Regions from separate parts of the Homo sapiens genome. Here region 1 is linked to region 2. A link means that fine-mapping ties the variant in region 2 to the expression of a gene that starts in the linked region. Tissue or cell type: testis. Region 2 holds a variant in brackets; the other region holds the start of a gene. All regions are shown on one strand. Distances are from middle to middle. Region 1 holds the start of LINC02534 (long intergenic non-protein coding RNA 2534). Region 2 has its middle 74 kb from the start of LINC02534.

Region 1 (4,410 bases), 73 kb after region 2:
CAAATTTAGCATCATATGCAAAAGCTAATACATCATGACCAAATAGATTTTATACTTGGAAGGCAGGTTTGGTTCAATAACTGAAAATTAATCAGTGTAATTCACCATATCACAAGAAGAGAAATCATATGATGATTTCAATACACGCATCTCAATGAAAGCCTTTATAAAATTCAATATGTATTAATGTTAAAATAAGCAAACAGAAGAAAATTTCCTCAACCTGACATAAGATATCTACTAAAAGCCTTCATATAATGCCATTCTTAATGACAGACTTAGTATTTTTCTCTGTGATCAGGAACAGGCAAAATGTCCTTTCTTATCACTTCTATTTAACATGTTATTGGAGGTTTTATTCAGTGTAATAAATAAAAACAAAAAAATTAAAGACATACAGTTTTGAAAGAAAGACATATTATCTACATACAGAATCTTAACAATCTACAAAGAAGCTAGTATAACTAGTAAATAAATTTAACAATTTTACTGAAAACAAACTCCATAAACAAATATCCATTGTATTTTTACATGCTAACAATGAACAATGGGAAACTGAAATAAACAGACTATTGAAACAAATAGAGTATTATTTATAACATCAGAAACATTACTGAGATATAAGTGTAATAAAGTACAACTCAAGATTTATATACTAAAAACTACACTTATAAAGGAAATAAAAGAGGACCTAAATAAATTAAAATATATTTTAGGTTGATGGATCAGAAGACTCAATACATTAAGATGTCAATTCCACCCTAATAGATCTGTAGAGTCAATACAGTTACAACAAAAATGTCAGCAAAATTTTTTTGTGGAAATTTGCCATCAAATTCTAATATGGTAGGGTGGGAGGAGTGGGAAAGCAAAGGAACACAATAGCTCAAACAATTTTGAAAAGATAGAACAAAGTTGAAGGACTTATACTGTTCGCAGCAGTCAGCTTGGACTGCCATAATAAAATACTACATATTGGGTGGCATAAGCAACAGGAATTTATTTTCTCCTGGAGGACAGAAGTTCAAGAACAAGGGGCTAGCATGTTTGATGCTTCCTGATGCCTCTCTTCAAGGGGCTAGCATGTTTGCTGTTTCCTGATGCCTCTCTTCTTGGCTTGTAAATAGTCATTTTTAGCGAGCTGTGGCCCCACATTGCTTTTTCTCTGTGTGTGAGCACCTCTGGTGTCTCTTTTTCTTAAGGACACCAGTCTTATAGAATTAGGGCCCTACTTTTATGACTCATTCAACCTTAATTATCTCTTTAAATACCCTTTCTCCTAATAAAGTCACAAGGACTGCTAGAAGAAAATATAGAAGAAAATCTCTGTCACCTTGGGTTAGGCAAAAAGAAATTTAAATATGACACAAAAAGCATAATCTTGAAAAGTAAAAATTGGAAAACTGGACTTCCTCAAAATTAAAATCTCTACTTTTCAAATAAAACTTAAAATAAAAAGACAAGCCACAGATTGGAATAAAATACTTGAAGAACACATATCTGATATGATATAAAAGGTCTTAATGACAAGAAAACAAGCAATCTGATTTTTAAATGAGAAAAAATTGATATTTTAATTGAGGATGATATTTAAATGGCAATTAAGCACATCAAAAAGTGCTCAACATCTGTTGTCATTAATGATATACAAACTAAAACCAAAATAAGATAGCATTACATACCCGTTATTGTGGCTAAGACTACAAAAACTTGACAATAACATGTGCTGACAAGACTAAACAACTGGAACTCTCATATATTGCCAGTTGGGATGCAATATGCTACAATCACTTTGGAAAAGTTTTGACAGTTTCTTTTTTAATTAAATGTACACTTACCATGCAAACCAGTATTTCCACTCAATATTTGTACTAAAGAAAACAAACATATGTTCACAGAAAAACCTGCATACAAATGTTTATTGCAGCTTTATACTTATTATCAAAACCTGGAAGAATGCATACTGGTACATGTAACAACATAGAGGTATGTCAAAAGCATTATGCTAAATGAAAGAAGCCAGACTCAAAAATTACATACTGTGTGATTCTCGAATATGGTATTTTGGATGAGAGAATTTATAAAGAATGAAAAATTGGTGTTTTCCAGGGGCTGCATGTGTTGGGTGTGTGACCAGGGAGGAAGGAGTACAATGGAGCATGCAGAAACTTTTTGAGGTGGTGGAACTATTTTTTATTTTGACTGTTGTGATTACATGTCCACCAAAAACTTAGAGAAAGGCCTGCCTTTGTCAAAACTCATAGAACTATACACCGAAAGGATACATTTTATATATTTAATTTTTTTTCAATAAACTTGACTGGGAAGAATTCCAGAATGAATTTCTTCACCCAGGTCATAACCATAGCTAACATTTAAGTTTACTTTCTTTTATTTCTATATGTGTGTATGCTACTGTGATACACACATACACATGTGCATACATATGTGTGTATATATATGTATCTGCATATATATGTGTGTGTTTCTGTGTGTGGGGGTGTGTGTGCATAAAATATACACACATACATACAGGTTTTGGTCTACAGTTCCTGGCTCATAATTCCCAAAGCCCTTGTTATAGTAAACAGAGTCAATCTCTCTCTCCCTCTGAACTTCTCCTGCTCTCCTTTCAACTGGCCATGGCAGGATTCTAATCTGATTGTGAGTCATAAAACAATCATTTCAGAAAGGGTCCTGCCCCCTACCGTGGAGTAAAGAATGCCGCACAGAGGACAAGAAGAATCTGAACAGACAGGCCTTACTGAGTTTATATCACATCATTTCTGTCCAATCACATTTCAATATGGTTGTCCATGCTTCAATCCTGTCTCTCCAATAAAATCCCTATTAAAAGATCCAAGAGAACAAGGTTTGAAGAGCTTCCAGATAGCTGAACATGTCGAGGTTCCTGGGGGGTGTTGCACCCAGAGAGGACATGAAAGCTCCATGTTCCTTTGTATACGCCTTGCCCTATGCATCTTTTCATCTGTCTTCTTTGTAATATCGCTTATAATAAAATGGTAAATTTGTTTTCATGAGTTCTGTGAGCCACTCCAGCAAATTAATCAAACCCAAAGAGTGGATTGTGGGAACCCCAACTTGAAGCCAGTTGATCAGAAGTTCAGGATGGCCTGGACATGCAAAAGGTGTCTGGAGGAGTGGGCATGGGGGAACTTGGGAAACTGAGTCCCCAAGCTCTGGGACCTGACTCTATCTCCAGGTAATGTTGGAGTTGAATTGGAGAATACTCAGTTGGTGTTCACTACAGAATTAATTGCTCACTTGGTGATGGGGAAAAACCCCTGCCTACATTTGGTCTCAGAAGTCTTCCGTGTTGATAACTGTTGTCTTGAGAGAATAGGCAAAAGCCCTTAGTGTGTTTTACACATAAACAATTATAATGTATGCATATTTTTATCCTGCATTTAATACCTACTGAGAGCATTTCTTATCTTTAACTCATCTTCCAAAATGTAATGTTAAAAAAATTTAGTATTATCAAATCTCATCTTATGGAAAAATAACTAGTGTGCAAAAATGTATTTGTTAATTATTATTAAAAGTTGTAATGTTGGCAGCTGGCAAGATGGCCGAATAGGAATAGCTCCAGTCTGCAGCTCCCAGTGAGATCAACGCAGAAGGTGGGTGATTTCTGCATTTCCAACTGAGGCACCTAGTTCATATCAATGTGACTGGTTAGACAGTGGGTGCAGCCCACGGAGTGCGAGCAGAAGCAGGGTGGGGTGTCGCCTCACCTGGGAAGTGCAAGGGGTCAGGGAACTCCCTCCCCTAGCCAAGGGAAGCCATGAGGGACTGTGCCATGAGGAACCGTGCACTCTGGCCCAGATACTACACTTTTTCCACTGTCTTCACAACCTGCAGACCAGGAGATTCCCTCCGGTGCCTATGCCACCAGGGCCCTGGGTTTCAAGCACAAAACTGGATGGTCATTTGGGCAAACACTGACCTAGCTGCAGGAGTTTCTTTTCATACCCCAGTGGCTCCTGGAACACCAGAGAGACAGAATCCTTTACTCCCCTGGAGAAGGGGCTGAAGTTAGGAAGCCAAGTGGTCTAGCTCAGTGGATTCCAGCCCCACGGAGCCTAGCAAGCTAAGCTCCACTGGCTTGAAATTCTCACTACCGGCACAACAGTCTGAAGTCGACCTGGGATGCTCCAGCTTGGTGGGGGGAGGGGTGTCCACCATTACTGAGGCTTGAGTAGGTGGTTTTCCCCTCACAGCATAAACAAAGCCGCCAAGAAGTTCAAACTGGGCAGAGCCCACCACAGCTTGACAAAACCACTGTAGCCAGACTGCTTCTCTAGATTCCTCCCCTCTGAGCAGAGCATCTCTGAAAGAAAGGCAGCAGCCTCAGTCAGGGGCTTATCGATAAAACTTACATCTCCC
Region 2 (4,410 bases):
ATATATATTTTTAAATGTTTATTATTACTAACCATTAGAGAAATGGAAATCAAAACCACAATGAGAGACCATCTCACACCAGTCAGAATGATGATTATTAAAAAGTCAAAAAAACAACAACAGATGCTAGTGGGGTTACAGAGAAAGGAGGACACTTATAGGCTGCTGGTGGGAAGGTAAATTAGTTCAGCCTCTGTGGAAAGCAGTGTAGTGATTTCTCAAAGAATTCAAAACAGAACTAACATTCACTCCAACAATCCCACTACTAGGCACGAGCCCAGAGAAAAATAAATCATTCTACCAGAAAGACATATGCACACATATGTTTATCATAGCACTATTCACAATAGCAAAAACATGCAGTCAATTAAGATGCCTGTTGATAGTGGACTGGATAAAGAAAATGTGGTTCATATAAACTGTGGAATACTATGAGGCCATAAAAAATGAAATCATGTCCTTTGAAGCAACATGGACATAGCTGGAGGCCATCATCCTAAATGAATTAATGCAGAAACAGAAAACCAAATATCATATGTTCTCACTTATTAATGGGACTAAACATTAAATACACAGGGACACAAAGATGGGAAGAGTAGACACTGGGGACTGCTCCGGGGGGAGGGTGGGAGAGGGGTGTGGGTTGAAAGGCTGCTACCTATCAGGTACTATGCTCACTGCCTGGGTGACAGGATCATTCGTACATCAAGCCTCAGTGACATGTAATTTACCCATGTAGTAAACCTACACATGCACCCCTTGAACCTAAAATTAAAATGAAGGAAAAAAATACAGTCATTTTAATTGTAAAAGTGTCTTTTTAATCATAAAATTTTAGTTGCAAGGTTATTAATATAACTGATCCAAACCCATATTTTGTAAATGAGAAAACTAAAGTCTGTGGTTAGATTATTTCAAAAGATAACCTTAACTATACCGTCCATCCTTACCTACGCTTTTGCAATTTGCCACACTTATCAAGAAACAGAGTGCATTTTTCTTTCCCTTGGATACTGGCTTCCCTGTAAATTGTTTTGACCAAGAGAATGTGGTTGAAGTATTGCTGTGTGCCATCTAGATCTAAGCTTTCAGAGACTTTGAAGCATTCATTTATGTTGTGTTGGGACTCAGCTGCCATGCTGTAAGACAACTAGTCTAGCCTGAATGGGGAAAACAAGATCTCTCAATAACCAGTATGTGAATGTAGTTATTTTGGACAGTCCTGTGTCAGCTGTTCAACTGAGCCCAGATAAGACCAGCAGAAGAACCACCATGCTAAGCACAAGCTATCCACAATATTGAGGGAAATATTCAATGATTGTTTAAGTTACAAGTCTTGGGGATGGTTCATTATGCATTCTTTGATAGCTGATATAAACTCAGACCACACTGCTATATTTGATTATTGTTGTAGTCATTATTAAACTTATTCTACATGACCCTTTCCATTAGATTGCACTATCTTAAGAAATCTGTAACCGATTTTACCTTCAGGGGGCCTCCCTATTCTAGAGAGCACATTATTAAAATACAAACTAACAACTTTATAAATTTGACATACCTAAAGCAAATATACCAGGCATACGGAGCACAAAATTTCTAATGTTACATGTTTATTACTATTATTATTATTATACTTTAAGTTTTAGGGTACATGTGCACAATGTGCAGGTTTGTTACATATGTATACATGTGCCATGTTGGTTTTCTGCACCCATTAACTCATCATTTACATTAGGTATTTCTCCTAATGCTATCCCTCCCCCATTCCCCCACCCCACGACAGGCCCCAGTGTGTGATGTTCCCCGCCCTATGTCCAAGTGTTCTCATTGTTCAATTCCCACCTACGAGTGAGAACATGTGGTGTTTGATTTTCTGTCCTTGTGATAGTTTGCTCACAATGGTTTCCAGCTTCATCCATGTCCCTACAAAGGACATGAACTCATCCTTTTTCATGGCTGCACAGTATTCCATGGTGTATATGTGCCACATTTTCTTAATCCAGTCTATCATTGATGGACATTTGGGTTAGTTTCAAGTCTTTGCTATTGTGAATAGTGCCGCAACAAACATACGTGTGCATGTGTCTTTATAGTAGCATGAT[T/G]TATAATCCTTTGGGTATATACCCAGCAATCCCATTACTGGGTCAAATGGTATTTCTAGTTCTTGTTTTTGTACAATGTTACATGTTTTTGTACAACCTACAAGTTTTATGTATTCGTATGGCCTTTGGTCCATGTCTCTTTAATAACCTAAGTTGGAAGTTTGAATTGATACCCTCTTTTATTATTGATACATTTTCCTTTAGTGAACAACACATTCTTTTCAAAGATAGTCTTCACTGTATCATAGTATTTGAAGGCATTATAAAAGACTGAGTGAAGTTTTTGAAAGAAAAAGTCTAGGGTTTCTGGTACCCTTTTTAATGTTTTATTGGGTGCTCTTTTTAGCCTCTGCTTTTTTCACTTTCCTTCTGCTCTCCCCTCCTCACTTCTTCCTGTATACACTTCAAAGAGAAAATAAAGGAGAAAATAAGTCACAAACGAACAGCTGGAAGGATGTGGTCAGCATTCACATACAAGAGACAGTCAAATTCCTCAGCCTCAGAAGGAATGTGTTTATTATAGAGAACATTCAGGCCTTTATTTTATCCAAACTCCATCTAACAGAGTCTTCTCCCTCCTTGCTATTGCCTCTGAAACCCTCTGCCCAAAAAGATTCCTCTGTGGCAAGTGAGTGAGTAAAGTTTTCCAGAAATAATGTATTGATTTAAACGATGCTGCTAAACAGTAGAGGATCAGACCTTGCTTAATTCATCACAATATTATGATAGCTTTCTTCATTTAAAAAAGTCAGTGCACACCTAAACATGAAAATAAGTCATTTTATTTGTGACATAATGCATCGTTGCTCATGTCACAGGGAGAATTGAAGTGCAGGATGAGTAGGACAATGGGGAAGTGATGAATGCTTAATTGGGTCCATTAAACATAACATAATGTTTTATAAAATTTAAATTTTTGTAATGGCAGGATACAACACAATGTCACACACACAGAAAAAAAGGCAGAACTCCTTGTTATTTGGAACTCCAAAGGAGAGAAGTCTGCTACATTAGGCCATAGAATTTTGCATCCAGGGACAGGATTAACAGCAAGCAGGGATGACAGTGGCAACTTATGTATGGCAAGTCGGCTGGGGTGAGGTTTCTTGGGGATGCCTATAGATTGGCTAATTTTAATTCTCCAGCTCCAAAGCACAGAGTCTGCCCCCAGTTGTCTGGTACCTGGACCCTAGGCAATTAGGGTTTTGCATAGTGGACTCTGAGTGTGAGAGTTCATAAAGGAAGTGGCTGGAATATGAACTTAAAATCAGCCATTGTAGAAGGGGAACTGACCAGCCTCCAGTGAGGCTTTCAAAACTGGGTAAAACCAACATTTTAAGAAAAGAACATATTAAACAATCATTACCTTTTTTTTAACTATGACCTGATGGATATAATTTAAATTCTATAGAACAAATGCTCTGTTTTTCCTGTATTTTTATTTCCTCATCCTTCTGGATTGCAATGGATGTGAAGGAATCTTCCTTAATTTGGGAACACTGGAGAAAAGACTTCCAATCCTCCTGACCCATGAGGTGCCTCCTGCAGCTTAGCCTCTGCATGTTGGTCTCTGTCTTTGCTGGATTCACAGCTGTGACAACTCCTGGTCCATTCTTGGTACTGCCAAAGCCAATTGTCTCAAGGCTCTGAACTTCAACTGCACACTTCCCCTCGCCAAATTTTGTTAAGTCCTGGGTATTAAGGCATCTACCTTGTAGTTGGGCAATAGTTCTCAAACTGGGCTTTAGATTTTCATCACCAGAGGCATTTCGAAAAATGATTCCCTGACCCCACCCAAGATAATAAAATTAGAATCTCTTTGTGGGGTGGGGCCTAAGACTTTAATATACACACAGGAATGACATTATTGCACCTAAGTGGCTCTGATAGAAACAAGGTACATACTTCTCAGCTACTATATGTGCCCTTCCCTGGGGTCCATAGGTAAATGCTCAGGTTTTCTACCTTGCCAGCATCGATACAGACCAAAAGAGAGGCGAGGTGGAAGGAGAAGGCATGTACACCATCTCATTATGTAAGCTATCAAGCTACACCATCTCATTATGTAAACTTTCAAGCTACGAGTTCTACTCACCCGGCGGGAATGAGGGAAGTTGATCAAGAGGGAATTCTTGGAGCTTTCATGCTCAGGGAATGCACATTACCCATGGCTCACCTCAACTGTGTACCTGGGAACTGAATTCTACCATCTTCAATTTCATTCTCCTCCCATGCAAACCAGATTAAAGCTCGTAATAGACATCCCATGGGCTTAACAACTAAGACATAACACTCTACAAGGCTT

Evidence for each region. PIP is the estimated chance that this variant, and not a neighbour inherited with it, causes the effect.
Region 1: it holds the start of LINC02534, and the variant in region 2 is the best candidate, but not a certain one, in a credible set for the expression of LINC02534 in testis (GTEx, PIP 0.61).

Annotation. Positions count from the first base shown.
Region 1 is chr6:115,641,272-115,645,681 of GRCh38, forward strand. LINC02534 (long intergenic non-protein coding RNA 2534) reads right to left here and starts at 2,564. Exons shown (of 4, transcript NR_134602.1): 1 at 2,534-2,564.
Region 2 is chr6:115,567,922-115,572,331 of GRCh38, forward strand. No RefSeq gene overlaps it. Among named protein-coding and RNA genes, the nearest start is that of LINC02534, 74 kb to the right of the region's middle. The variant T/G (reference allele first, on the strand shown) is at 2,106.